Homo sapiens: one gene and its partner. The protein of the gene in region 1 purifies or fractionates together with the protein of each later gene. This does not show direct contact. Each region holds a gene or a part of one and is shown on either strand. Other genes may lie near its edges.

The links. The genes of interacting proteins can lie anywhere in the genome.
Region 2: the proteins of CRYBG3 (region 1) and SLC25A25 purify together in Homo sapiens (co-immunoprecipitation; one large-scale study listed by IntAct). This does not show direct contact.

The regions. Positions count from the first base shown.
Region 1 is NC_000003.12:97,869,868-97,874,911, forward strand, and holds part of CRYBG3 (very large A-kinase anchor protein), read left to right. Parts: intron 1-1,974; coding exon 1,975-5,044.
Region 2 is NC_000009.12:128,099,232-128,102,731, forward strand, and holds part of SLC25A25 (mitochondrial adenyl nucleotide antiporter SLC25A25), read left to right. Parts: intron 1-1,864; coding exon 1,865-1,991; intron 1,992-2,077; coding exon 2,078-2,165; intron 2,166-2,848; coding exon 2,849-2,884; intron 2,885-3,138; coding exon 3,139-3,250; intron 3,251-3,500. UniProt on the Homo sapiens protein: Electroneutral antiporter that most probably mediates the transport of adenyl nucleotides through the inner mitochondrial membrane.

The sequences.
Region 1 (5,044 bases):
AAGTATTTAAGAGACACAGTTGGTGAAGTTTTTACATGTGAAAAGAGATATACTTTCTCTTTTATCAATTAGACAAATCTAGAATTCTTAATGTAACTGCTTTAAAGTTGGCAATAAAATGTATTTTTTAGGTATTGGAATACTGATAACTGAATTTCGAAATTATTCATGTGTATTTCACAGTAATGGTTTGGTTAATCATATGTTTAATCAGAAAAAAATCAAGTAGAACACACATCAGATTTTTCTACCATACTGTTTTTTTAAAAAATAATTTCAACTTTTATTTTAGAGTTGGGGTGCATATGCAGGTTTATTACATGGAGATAAATTGCATGTTGTGAGGGTTTGGTGTACAGATTATTTCGTCACCCAGGTAATGGACATAGTACCTGACAGGTAGTATTTTAGTCCTCACCCTCTTCCCATCCTCCCCACTCAATTAGGCCCCAGTGTTTATTGTTCCCTTCTTTGGGTCTATGTGTACTCAACGTTTACCTTCCACTTATATGTGAGAACATGTAGTATTTGGTTTTCCTGTGTTAATTCACTTAGGATAATGGCCTCCACTGCATTCATGTTGTTGCAAAGGACACGATTTTCTTCTTTTTTATTGCTGCTTAGTATTCAATGGCATATATGTACCACATTTTCTTTATCCAATCTACCATTGATGGACATCTAGGTTGATTTCATGTTTTTGCTATTGTGGATAGTGCTGTGATGAACATATGAGTGCATGCTATTTTTTATAGTCAGGAAATTGAAAGGTAATTAGAGTTCAAAATGTAAAACATTTTGATTATCACATATAAGAATTAAGACATTCTTTTGAAATAGATTACTTAGCAGTAAGTATCATTCCTTTACTTATTCATTAATTCATGAGAAGGTATTAAGCATATACAACTTGCCAAATCTTGTGTGGGGCACTTAAAAACAGAAAGATGATTAGGACACAGTACCTTCCCTCAAATAGCCACCAGGCTAGTGGGGAAAATAAATAAGTGCATAGATCTTTATGATTTAATGTGACAAATGTTGTGCTCTGTGCACCCAGAGATCAAAGACTAACTGTCCATCTTAGTAGTAGAGGGATAGGTTTGCAGTGGAAATTATTTGTGTGCTGAGTCTTAGAGGGCATTAGAGTTTCCTTCTGATGCTGGCATTAAAGGGCAGAGAATGATGTGTGTAATTGGCTATAAGATAGTATGGCGTGATGTGAGAACTCGTAGTGGTAGATTCTCCAAAGGAAATTGGGTGCTGAGAGCATCAGGATCTTTATACTGTGGTTAGATTTCTATACTTACTCTAGACATCTTTTTTGATTTTTGCATTTGCCCAAGCAGTTTAATACTATACTAAATGAATATTTGAAGAACTGAACACAGAGAATTTTAATGCAGTTTTGTCATTTATTGAGTTAACAAATACATACTGAGTGTTTACTGTGGGCTAGACATTTTGCCATCTGTTTTCATTTAAAACGTTTCCAAGTTACGTGCTAAACATTGCTGTTCAAATTCACATGTAAGAGTAAAGGAATAGAAGGTCATTATGATGCTTTAATGTGGTGGAGAAGTCAGTGATGTATCCCTAAACTCGTAGTAATATGAGGCCCAAAGTCAAGCTGGTTACTTAGAGTCAGACACTCCTTTGAGATTAGAACTAGGACCCAAGGCTTGGACTCATATTCTGTTAACCACAGTCAGAGGTATGTATGTAATCAGGTAAGAAGGAGTAATTCTAAGGAGGTCAAACATTCTTCATGCTGCATTGACATTCAGGTGCTACTTGTTAAATTTTTATTATTTTTAATAAAGGTAAATTTAAAGCGTTCTAGGATTTACTCCCCAAATTGGTACATATTAAGGGAAGTGGTGTTTAAAAGATGTACTTTTACCACAGTTGCTGGGATTAGTATTAAGTATTATTAATTATATTTCCTGATACTCTCATGCTTTCTTTTTACAGACAAATCGATGGTAAACCAGAGAAGCCTTCAGTAACATATGCAACATATCGAGGCCCAAGACACATTGGGAAATATTTAAAGCAACAGACAGGCTTGGCAACTGTGAATACCTTGGACAGAGAAAATGAAAGTTCTGACTCTAGTACAAACAGACACATTGACCCTGGAAGTGAGATTGAGGCTGGGGTACTGCCACTGTTGTTATCAGCTAGTACAGACTCATCTATGAAAGGAAATCTACTTGAAGGCCCATTAGAAGACTCTGATTGTAGCAAAACAAGTTTCAACAAGGAAAATTCTTTGACAAATAACCCAGAACTGCAGAATATTGCCTCTTCCAATAATCTTTTAAATAAAAATGCTTGGGGGAGTATTGAGAGAAATAGGTCATCCCCTTCTTCTGTGACTAACTCCAGCTACGATGGAGAATCTGACTCACAGCACCATTTAAGTTGTGAACCGGTTTCTCAGACTAACAGAAATTTGGTATGTTCAGCATTGTTAACAGGAAGTAACCATCGCAAAGTCCCTTGCAGCCCAGATTTTCAGAGAGTAACTACAACAGAAAATACGATAAAAGAAAACAGCACTGTGATGAGTAATAGGACATTGGTGCAAAGAGAGGAGCTTGTTGAGCCTCAGGGCCCTGCTATTTCTGATTTCTCTTGTAGTAAATCTGATGGGAGTGACACTACTGAGCAGGAAAGTACAAATTTGCCAAGTCCAAATAAATCAATTAGGCATGAACATCTGCAGTTGCCAGAGAGTGAGTGTTCTGACAAGCAAACCATAGATAGCTCATCAAAGCAAGCTGCCACTCACACCAATATCATTGCTCTTCAGAGACATGCTGTGACAGACACAGAATTTGTAAATGAAGGAAAGAGATTGTCTGCCCAAGACTCACAGAAAAATGTGGCTGTTAGAGAAATCAGGCGAGAAACAGAAAGTGCCTCAGCTGGTGAATCCATAGCTTCAAGTCATGTAAAAGCTCCAGAAGATAAAATTGAGTCATTACCCAAAGATACTGACCAATACTTTGAAACCAAAGCCAAAAAGCTTGATTTTAGGTCACATGATAAAATTCCTCATATTAGAATGAATAAAAAAGACCTGGCCTCTTTAAATTACATCAGTGAATCAGCAGTTGTAGCAAGCTTAGGAAATGAAAATGCACCTGAGTTGAAATTTGAACTTAATAGAAGTCACATTTCAGAAACTCCTCTTGACTCTGAGAGTCCTCAACAAGCTGAAGTATCACCTGATGCTAAAACATCTCTTAGCCTTGACTGTAAAAAACTAAATTTCAGTATTTCACCTCCTACCTTTGTTTCTGGAGTTGGGATGCTGAGCAAGTTGGATATTCCTGATTTAATGAATGAGGGTTCTCCTGTGCCCATTGAAACTGGGAATGTCAACATTGTTGGTATTTCCTATCAGCCTAGGAAGTGTAAAGAAGAAAATGTGAAAAACCATGTTGAGGCTGCAGGCAGGAAGAGTCCTCCTCCTTCCTTTTGCCTTGAATATACATCTGCAATTTTTGAATTCAAAGAAGTTCTTTCTAATAGTGAAAAATGCCAGGTTCTTCCAGGTTCTGAAGCCAGTGGCCCTCACTTAACTGGGTTGGAGCTATTGAGCTTTGACTCTGGAAACCTCTCTAAGGATTGCAGTTCCATTTTATCTCAAGACCCTAATAGAGTAGAGTTAGTGTCTTCAAACACTAAAGCAAATATGAGCATAATAGAGAAGTCTGATTCTCTTTCCTTGGAAGCCAAAACTGCTAACATTGTATCAAAAGCTGAAATTGATGGTCAGAACAATGTTCTTGTGGAGTCACATTCTGGAAGAGGAAAAACTATATCCTTGTCCAAGGTATCTCTTTCAAAAGTGGAGCCCAGAAACATTTCTCAGGATAAAATGTCTTCTTTTCCATTGAAAATTACCCATGTTCCAGAAAAGCCTATTTTGTCAGAATTAACCTTTCTAGAAGTTGAACAGGGCAAACGTTTTCAATCAATTAATCATAATGAGATAGGAGAGAAATGTTCAGATGCTGGCCTTAAAGAGAATTGCCAAGCTGAGCTTTCTCCTGCTGCCTCCAAATATGAAGATAAGCCAGAACCAGAGGTAGATGCCTTAGGCTCTCCTCCTGCTCTTCTTAAAAGTAATATATCTTGGATTTTACCACCTATTCATGATGAAAAAATCAGTAGGCAAATGGCGCAGAATTGTGAAGCTCACACTTGTGTGTTTCATCAATCTTTGGATATTTGTGGGACTAAAAAGATTTCTGGTCACTCAGAAATGGCGGAACTCAGCTTAACTAATATTTCCCCTAAATTCCAAGAAACTGGCAGCATGAAAGTAAATTCACCTTTTCTGGATTCTGATTCCAGTTTGGAAAAAAATTCTTCTGCATCTGAGGACTCAAGCTTCCTTAAAGTACCTTCTGTGCTGAAATTGGAAAAGAAATCCTCATCTTACAGAAAGAAAGAGAACATCCATTTTTTAAATGGTGGTATTGATAGTGTGTCATCTTCCTCTAGTTACCCTGAAGAAGTTAGCATGATAGTAAATTCACATAAGCCCCAAAATAATTTGGATTCTATACAAGTTACCAAAGATCTCACACATGAAGGTACCTCTGTAACTAACCTGTTGTACCCTACTACCTCTTATTTGGAATTTGAAACGTCTGTCTCAATTGGGACAGAAGTAACCCCATTTCAGGAACATTTTGGGATTTATACTGGGAAGATATCCATTGATTTCCCAACTGCTGCCCAATTTGACAATCTCGTGGAAGCAGAGACTGGAGCAGTTGCTGGGCCTGCAGCGTCAGTTAACAGCTCAGGCCAACAGTGTTCTGAAGCCTCTGCTGAGCACATAGAAGCCAGGAGAAGAGCACATGACCAACTTTTGGACCTCAAAAGTAGTTTACTCAAAAAGGCCGATACATTGATTGGTGAGATTTTTAATTCTGTCAGGGAAGAACTAAAATTCAAACACACAGTGAGTACCTGCCAGGAGCATATAGCCATAGAAGGTATAATGAATCTGGGTACCCTG
Region 2 (3,500 bases), on another chromosome or scaffold:
CCACCTCGGCTTCTCGGTTAATCAGTTTCCCTGCTACCCCCAGTGCCCACTGTGCACCAAGGGGGATTTGCAGATCCAAGGAAGGAGACAGAAGGAGGCCCAGGCCCTGTGAGGCAGAAGCAAGCACTTTGAGAATGCGTTGAAGCCAGCTGCGGTGAGCACACCCTCTGCTCTGGGTGTCTGCGACAGCACCCACCCCAGGGAGGCATGTGGCTCACCCTGGCAGCAGGCGGCTGGGTCCCAGAGGGCTCCATGCCTGATGTTCGCCTCCTGCCTAAATGGCTTGTCCACTCTATTTCCATTCCTGTTAGAGATTTGGAGCAGTCACCCTATAGGTGATTTATGTCACTCTTGTCTGAGAGCACAGATGTCCACAGGAAGTTAAATGTAACCTCAGCAGATAAAATATGTACCTGCATCTGTCCTACATTCCAGCCACGCCCCTCACATTAGCCTTTTGATCGCGCCAGGTCATGGGGTATCTGTTCAGGCCTCCCTGCCCCTGACACCTTTGGCAGCTGAGGAATCACAAGGCGCTGTCAGTAGTGTGTCTAAGAGAGAGGCGCGGTGGTGATCCTTTGAGGACGCGAGCTAGCCAGTGGGCCATCCATTTCCAAACCCCAGCTGGCTGTCAGTTGATTTCTCCCAGTGAGAAATCCGGAGGACACAGGAAGACTATACCATCTTCCTTGGGAGATTCTCGGTCCCAGTTTTGGGTTCCGGATTCAGGGCGTTGCTGAGTTGGGGTGACTCACTTTCATCCCCCATGTTCTGAAGGTTAGCCTTGAGGGTGGCGGCAGGATGTGCAGGGAGGCGGCTTGGGAGGACCACGGCCCAACTTGCATCCCGCCCACCACTTCCCTAGCTGTCTGACCTTGTGTAAATGTTTAGGCTCTCGGAACTCCTGTTTCCTTCTCTGTAAAATGGGGGAAATGACATTTCCTACCTCCTAGAGCTGTTTGCGAGGGGGGTAAGTGGGTTGCTAGAAGTAAAGCATTTGGCACGCCCTGCGGCCGGTGCTAGGTGCTGGGGAAATGTGTGCTCTCGTGGAGCTGTCCCAGTTGCCAACCATTAACAGCTGCTGAACAAAGCCCACCTCCTGGGAGGCGGGGGCGGGGGGGGTTACTTTTGGAACCTCATTGCCAAGGAACAGTCTCTCAAAGCCTTCTTGGGACACTAAAGTGCTTTTCAGTGAGTGAGCGGGAGAGCCAGGGCAGCTCTATCACCTGGCTTCCCTGAGAGCAGGGACTGGCAGTACCATCATACACATGCCCTTGGCTCCTTACACTTCCCCGGCCTCGGGTGCTGTGGCAGAGTCTGGCTCTGCCCCCGATTTTCACCTGCCCACCAAATTATTCTCGGACCAATGCCAGTTTTAGGAGAGAAACAGCGAGCTGCAGAGTTCCTGTCAGAAACTGGACTCCATGGCCATCCCCAAGTCTCAGCAGGGAGCATGTGTGGTTGAAGCCTGGGTCCAGGGACCCAGGGACGGCGCTGCAGCGAAGCCACCCTGCTCACCCTGGCTGTACGGCACGCAGGTCTTCAGACTGAGAAAGTGCCCAGCTGTCCCTGTCGGCCTCTGTCCGGAGGGCTCTTCCCAGGCTCCTTGTTTCCTCTCTGCTTGAGAGGGAGACAAGATTGGCCCTTGCCTGGGTTCTGGCCAGCACCTGGGGTTCTAGGTGGTGGCTCTGGCATGTAAGTCGATTGCCATGGTGGCTCTGAGAGTGGAGCAGAAGCATCTTGGGTCCTTGGGGCCAGCTCTGCTCGCAATTAGTGAAGTCATTGCCTGGGGATGGGGCCCCACAAGGGACAAGGAAAGGCTGGTCCAGGAGCCAAAAGACAAAATGTTACCTTTCTTTTCTAGAAAATTGTACAAGCTGGAGATAAGGACCTTGATGGGCAGCTAGACTTTGAAGAATTTGTCCATTATCTCCAAGATCATGAGAAGAAGCTGAGGCTGGTGTTTAAGAGTTTGGACAAAAAGAATGATGGTAAGTGTTGCCTTCAGAGCTGTGGCCGGTCCAGCCTCGGGCCTCCCCGTGCGCCTGGCTCCTGCTCACGGCCTCTGTTCTTGCAGGACGCATTGACGCGCAGGAGATCATGCAGTCCCTGCGGGACTTGGGAGTCAAGATATCTGAACAGCAGGCAGAAAAAATTCTCAAGAGGTGAGTGCTCAGCCAGCCTCTGTGTTTGGTTTAAGTGTGATGAAGGGAAGGCTCTGAGACTAACCCTCCGATGCCATTCCCTGGGCTGACCCTGAACTTGGCCTTCTCGTGGTTTGAAAGGATGAATAAGTAACCCCTGTGGGAGGCCAGCCCCTCCCCAGGGTTGCAGGCCTGCTTTCATTGGAAGAATCACAGATCACCTGGAATTTTGCCCATCGGCCAGTGGCCCATGAAGGGAAAACTAATTTGGGGGTGGTTCAAATAGGTAAAAGGCCAGCAAGGAGCACCTGTGCGTGTGGAGGGGGCGGGGCGGGGCGGGGGGCTCACACTGCAGCCTCGTTCCCAGGTGAATTTCTTCCCCATGCTGGTAACTTGCACTTAACACTTTAGTCAGAGGCGCTGCCCCAAAAGATAGCTCCCTGGTGCGGGGCGGCTGCCAGGAAATCTCATGGAACAGCCCTGGGAGTTGCCGTCTGTCCTGGCTGGACCTTCCGGAAACCCTGCGGTCTGAACACTGGCTGGTCCTCGGGGACAGCAGCCCTGGGCTCAGCTGCTGTGGCGGGCTCGTCTCGTGCCGTGCTGTGCCCCTGTCTCTGGGTGTGTGCTTGCTTCACTAACATGGCTCCGAGCACTTATGCGTGTTGTTTCTGCTCTCTCCTCCGCATCCTTTGTCTGTCTGTCAGAATACGAACGGGCCATTTCTGGGGCCCTGTCACCTAGTAAGTATCCATGTCGCTCATGACTGCCTCCCTTGACTTCCATGCCTGATCAGAGCGGGATTCTTGTGGGCCATTATATTGCCATTGTTGTGCTAAGTGGGGTGTGGAGCCCCCTGCTCTTTCTCCTGGGGGCAGAGGCACCTCGTGTGGTTTCTGGGCATCCGAATGCCTGCCCTTGGCTCACTGGGAGGTGGGGGGATGCAGCTGGCGGATGGGCATGTGGGCACGTGGGCAGCCTCGCCTCTGTCTTGCAGCATGGATAAAAACGGCACGATGACCATTGACTGGAACGAGTGGAGAGACTACCACCTCCTCCACCCCGTGGAAAACATCCCCGAGATCATCCTCTACTGGAAGCATTCCACGGTGAGCCCCACGTGCCCAGGGCCCTCATCTGCTCCCAGGGACCCTTAGCCCAGAGTCACCCAGTCGTCCCCATCCCAGAGTGCAGCTGGGGCTTTCCAGCCACCTCCTCTTCCACAGGAGACTGTCCCCTCTTCTGCCAGCCCAGTAGAGCTGTCCGCATGTTCCCCATGTTCTGGCACTCCAGCCAACCTGAACAGCCCCATCGTTCACACACACAGGCTTCCTCTTCCAGGAACACCCTCCGTCCCCA